Regions from separate parts of the Homo sapiens genome. Here region 1 is linked to region 2. Evidence: fine-mapped expression QTL. A gene starts in region 2. The other region holds a variant in brackets. All regions are shown on one strand. Distances are from middle to middle.

Region 1 (2,906 bases), 37 kb after region 2:
AAAATCAGAAACCAAGAAGAATTTAGATGTACAAGAGATTTATTGGGAGAAATATCTGTGAAAGGTAATGAGGGAGAGAACAGGAGTAGGCAGGGTGCACCTATTGATGGAGGTGCAGGTCTGCATATGTGAAAGGAGACGGAAGGAAGTGGGTGGATAGGAGAACCCTCAGACTGCGATACAGCCATGAAAGGGTCTTGGCCAGGCCAGTAAAGTATCCCTGAGCAAAGATCGAACATTCAAGGAGTTTTGTGTTGGGCAGAAATAGCCCGGCCGCGGTACCTAAGGCCGCGGACTTAGTAGTTGGCTAGAAGTAGCTTGGTAAGCGGCAGGGGGAAATCAAGCTTTGTTGTGAATATCACGGCAAATCCAAAGGTGTGAAAGGTATAAGCTGTCACCCAACTATACTCCCCACATCAGGTTCTCTCTAAGGGAGGTCTGAGCGGCCAACCTCCATGGCCACCGCAACATGTTCATGATCACGGTTAGTAGCAGAGCAAGGACTAAAATCTAGTCCAGAATTCTTTCTAGATTATTCTGCAAGGCATTCTCTCTCCAATGCCTGGCCCCATCCCATGGCCCCAAGTTTATAGGTTTGGACTTAATCTTGTGGATGTTAGAGCTAGATGTCAGCCCCCTGAAGGTTAGAGAAGGCAGGACCACTAAGCAGGTCAGAAGAGGAAGGAGAGCGATGCAGAAGGGCTGTAAGGTCTTTGAGGAAAAGCAGCAGCTCCGGCTGAAGAGGTCCCAGTGGCTCTGTGCATCTGCTTACCTGACATGCGTCCTACTGCCTCCTTTAGACAACTCTTCACCTCTTCCAGCTGCCTCTCAATCTCAGCACTCTACTTCCCATCCCAGACCCAAGCTGGCTCTATCAGACTCTTTCTCTAGGTTGATATTCAAGCATTAGGAGAAAGACATTATCTTTTTACTGGAAAAGCAAAACTGTGATAGCAGGAACTAGGGCAGTTGGTGGCTTTTTTCTTTTTTCTTTTTTTTTTTTTGAGATGGAGTCTCGCTCTGTCCCCCAGGCTGGAGTGCAATGGCACCATCTTGGCTCACTGCAACTTCTGCCTCCCGGATTCAAGCTATTCTCCTGCCTCAGCCTCCTGAATAGCTGGGATTACAGGCACATGGCTTTCTTGTTACATGGGAGGAGCAACTCTGCGGAATGAAGACCAGCAGAGATGAGAGGTGAATGGAGAAAGGTGTGTGTGTGTGTGTGTGTGTGTGGTGTGTGTGTGTGTGTGTGTGTGTGTGTG[A/TGA]GAGAGAGAGAGAATGAGTGACTCATGGCACATTGAATCCTAGTCCCAGCCCCCAAGGCCTGCCTCGCGCCTTCAGCTCTTCTACTCCAGGCACTTCCCCAGATGGGTCAATGTGCTCCCTTTTTCTTGGTGTAGTAGGCAGATTTCTAGGATGGCTCATAATTCGCAGCCCCTGGTCTATTGCACCTTCTCCCAGTTATTCAGTCAAGCACTAATCTTGGTATTGCTGTGAAGGGACTTTGCAGTTGTAATTAAGACCCCAAATAAATTGACTTTAAGATAGGGAGATGAGCCAAGCAGATCTGGCTTAATTACACAAGGCCTTCAAACTGAGTCTAGAGATCAGGCATAGAAAAATCAGAAAGATGTGAAATGTGACCAAATGTTAGTGAAGGAGTCAAAGCCGGTGGCCTCTGGAGCTGAGAGCAGTCCCCTGACAGCAGTCTAATAACCACAGGGAACTGAATTAGGCCCACAGCCTGAATTAGCTTGGAAACGGACTTTTCCCCAGAGCCTTCAGATGAGAACTCAGCTGGGCCAACACCACGATTTCCTTTGGTCCTTGAGACCCTGAGTGAAGACCCCAACCCTGCCATACCTAGACTGCTGACATACAGCACGTGTTTTAAGTGGTCAAGTTAGTGGTTGTTTATCAACAATAGAAAACTAATACACTTGGGTAAGACCTGAAGAAGTGTTGACTAAACCAGTGAGGAGAAAATAGTCCTCTTCTACTGCCCTACGCAGACTCTAGAAACTGCTGTTCTTCACTTGGCTTTTCTTGGGTATGAATCTGCTTACAGGAGTATCTGTTGTTGAATAGTGTGATGAAAGAATTTAAAAGCACATTTGGATGAGGACAGAGGGAGCACAAGACGATTCTTGTTTCTGAAGTGGCTGGGGAGGAAGATCACCGCAGGAGTGAAGAGGGAGAGAGGAAAATGGCTGGTGAGAGATGGTGCCTGGGGACCTGGAAAATAAATGTCTCCTCACTGGTCTCCCTGACTAGTCTCCCTGCTTCCACCTGCTCTCAACGCAGCAGCCAGAGTGAACTTTATAACAGGTGAATCAGCTTTGGCACCCTGTTCAAAACTCTCCAGGTCTTCTCATTTCATGAGGAGTGAATCTAAATTCTTCGGTGGCTGACAGATGCCTCCACCACTGGTGCCATCCCTCTTTCCACGAGCTCTCTCCCCACCCCCATCCCAGCCACTCTGGCCTGGTGGATCCATCAACCCACATAGATACTTACACCTCTCATACTTTGCTATTTTTTTGGTGAGGGTGGACAGGGTCTCGATGAGACAGGATAGTTCTCTTGACCTCCTTTGTGGGCAGGAACTGGAGTGGCCCGTTTCACTCAGCCAGCTGCTGGCCACTCCTCACAGGAGGAAGCATGCAAGACAGTAAGTGCGGGAACTGGAGTAAATGGATGCTGGAATGGCCGGCCACTCCTCTCTGGCAGGAGCAAGCTCTGTGGGGCTCCACAGCAGCTCCAAGCATGTATAACCAATGCTTTTTCAGCTCTGCTGTCCAGGGATGGTCAAGTGCCAACCAGCTCAGTGGAGGGTCAGAGTGGCAGCCCCTGTCCTCTTGGCACCCAGGTTCTTGCCCTCTTGGCACCTGGGTTCTTGTCTGGTGTCC
Region 2 (2,906 bases):
TAAGCAGAGAGCTGTTTAATGTGGATTCCTGACCCCCTGACCCCCATCCTCAGAGGCTTTGTCTCTGTTTTCTAAAGGAACTGGGGGAGGGAGGGGTTGTGCTAAAAAGAGAACTTAAGATGGTAAATTAGAAATCAAAAACCGAGGCCGGTCATTTGATACAGAATCTAGAATAGGAATGTCTATTTCAGAAACAGTTCTACTTGTAATTGCCTGACTTGGTACAAATTTTCTGGGTCAATTTTCCTCATCGACAAAAATGGGTTTTGTTACCTTCAGTATGGATGGGTGGAACTGTGGTTTCTGAGACCCTTTGAAGCTTGCTTGGTTTATGAAGATTATTAAAATTTCTGATAAAAGGCAATGTATAAATGATATACATTCACTATGCAAACTATCATGAAGACCTATTATTCGAGCTTTAGGAAAAGCTGATCACGGTGCTGTCACTTTCCCTTAAAGTCCACTGTCTGAAACCAGAGAACACGCCAGAAAGAAATTTGGCCCGCTAACCTCTCCCCTCACCAAACACTAAACAGACACCAGCTCAGAATCCGAAAACTTGACAGTCTGGCTCCAGTCTGCCCAAGGCCAGTAGTGTGGATTTGGACGACTCACTTTACTTTCAATGGGCTCGGTTTGCTAAGATTTTCAGTTCCATCTTTTACTCATCTAACTGCTCCATTCCTCTTTGCTTCTTCCTTTCCCGCACCTGCCACCATCCTTTCTACCTCCCTAACGACTTTGTCTTTGCGTTCCTACCGCTTCCCGCATTACCCGTTTCGCACTTTCTCATCTCAGATTTCGGTCACCCGCACCCTGCCATCCCCTTGGCTTCTCCTCTTTGGGCATCTCCGGTATTCCTCCCGCAATGTCCTGGCTCCTCTCCAAGATCCAAAAAGGAAGGCTACCATCCCCAGCCCCGCTGTGCACTCGCGCAACTCAGGCGCTGGCCCACACCGTGCGCCCCGGATCCCACACCTCCTTGAGTCCCGATGGCTCGCCCTCACCTACCCGCCCCTCTCTTAGCATCTCGTCCCCCACCGCCATCTCCGCTATCAGCTCGGAGACTCGGGAGCCGCCAGTCACTGTGCCCTGTCCCTCTCCGGAGGCCGCCAGTCACTGTGCCCTGTCCCTCTCCGGAGGCTCTTCTTCCTCTTTAGCCTGGGATCCCCACCTCGGGCAGGGTCCGTCGCCACCAAGTCCAGGGCCGCGCGCCACCCACGTGTCCAAGAGCGCAGTGCCCGCCCACCGCAAACCCCCCAAGGCCGGCAGCTCCTAGCCGCGGAAGCTCTCCCCTTGCACACGAAACCTGCACTGGCTGGGGAACTGCAGACTGATCGCCAGCGGCACGTGCGGGGCGCCGACGCCTCGCCGCAGGGTGCGGGTGCCCGCGGAGCCAGCCAGCCAGAGAACCAGCAGGAGAGGAAAAAGGGTGGGCGCGCGGGTGGGCCCGGGAGGCGGAGACCTTCGGGAAGCTGGGGCCACGCGGCGGTGCAGGCGACGGGACTGCAGTGCCACCTCTCCCGAGAAACCCACACGCTCGCACGCCCGCGCGCGCACGCACGTGCACACGGTGGGCAGGGAGAAAACGAGAGAGTCTGAGTGCTGGGCGCGTTTTAGCGATGGCTTCTGCTCTCAACAGCAAAATTAACCCGCCCGGCACTTGCCAGGGCTCCAAAGCCGACGGTGGCGCCGGCTGGAGAATGGACTGTGATCCCCAGATGCACGTGAAAATGTGCAAGAAGATCGCCCAGCTCACCAAGGTAAGGTGGGGCGCAGCGGGCCAGCGAGCTGCACGCCCGGGGCGCCCGAGCCGGGAGTCAGTGCGGATGCGCCTCCCGGGAGGCCCGGGCCAAATCCAGACAGAAACTTTGTCTCGGAGGCCAACCGGGAAGGGAAGCGGTCCTAAATCTGGGTGACTTGACCTTCTAGAGGCACCATCCTAAAGCAGCAGAGAAAGAGGATCCTTGCCAAGGAAACTCCCACAGCCTGCTGGCTGGGCAGGTGGTCTGTGCTTTTCCAAGGTGGGAATGTGAATCGTGTGTGTGTGTGTGTCCCCGCCAGCTTTGCTCAAGTGCCTAGAATGTTGTGATTTCATTCAACTGCCATACTTTACAGCTGGGGAGGTCATGTGGGCTCTATTTAAACACTTGATCCATTTATTCCTTCATTCAACAAATATTTGCGTCATTTGTTGAGTGCCAGCAGCTTGCGTGGCACCGTACTAAACCTGGAATGCAGCCTAGGGGACTTACTATCAAACTGGGTGCAGACGTGTGTAGGAGCATAAATGGGGAAGAGCACGATTCACCAAATAACTATGGGATTAGGAAGGACCTAGGGAAGTCAGCCAGCCCACCTCCTTACCTCGTGCAGGGGGCTCTGATTGAACCTTCCCAGACTATGTCTTTTTCAAGAAGACCAGCAAAAAGATGCCACCAGTGCTCTTTGTTAACCCTCTGCAGCTCCCCAATTAGAAGCTCCTTGTCACAGACTCCCCTCTGTGCCTTGTCTAGATGGAAAACAACATCCCTCACTGTCTCCTATACAAGGTTTCAAGTGGATGAATTTAGCTGTTTGCCTTGGGGTTTCCTTTCGGTCTCATAATAAACTCCTGGTGCCATGCCCGCCAGGGAGAGGTCAGGTCCAGGTCTGTCCTGTAGCGTCTGGAACATGCTCTCTTTCCTCACCATCTCCCTCTCACTTCCCACACATTTTTTTGTGGGATCACAGACATTCCCCTCCCCCTGTCCCGCCAACCTCACTATTTTGCCAGGAGGAATAGAGCACAGGGGCTTGGAATTGAACACTAGCCGCCTTCTCCCACCTGTCTCATTAACTTCACATTCTTTGCACGTGAGCCTGTCTCCAAACAGGGCTCTCTTTGGTCAAGGAATGAAAAA

Alleles and levels. Positions count from the first base shown, and alleles are read on the strand shown. Sizes are in standard deviations (SD) of each study's normalised expression.
For the expression in prefrontal cortex of the gene that starts at base 1,304 in region 2, allele TGA in region 1 goes with a lower level than allele A (small effect, 0.30 SD a copy in BrainSeq).

The links. PIP is the estimated chance that this variant, and not a neighbour inherited with it, causes the effect.
Region 1: its variant is the best candidate, but not a certain one, in a credible set for the expression of FAM184B in prefrontal cortex (BrainSeq, PIP 0.72).

The regions. Positions count from the first base shown.
Region 1 is chr4:17,742,818-17,745,723 of GRCh38, reverse strand. All of the region lies in intron 1 of FAM184B (family with sequence similarity 184 member B), which reads left to right. Among named protein-coding and RNA genes, the nearest start is that of FAM184B, 37 kb to the left of the region's middle. The variant A/TGA (reference allele first, on the strand shown) is at 1,263.
Region 2 is chr4:17,780,019-17,782,924 of GRCh38, reverse strand. FAM184B (family with sequence similarity 184 member B) reads left to right here and starts at 1,304. Exons shown (of 18, transcript NM_015688.2): 1 at 1,304-1,766. The coding sequence starts at 1,626.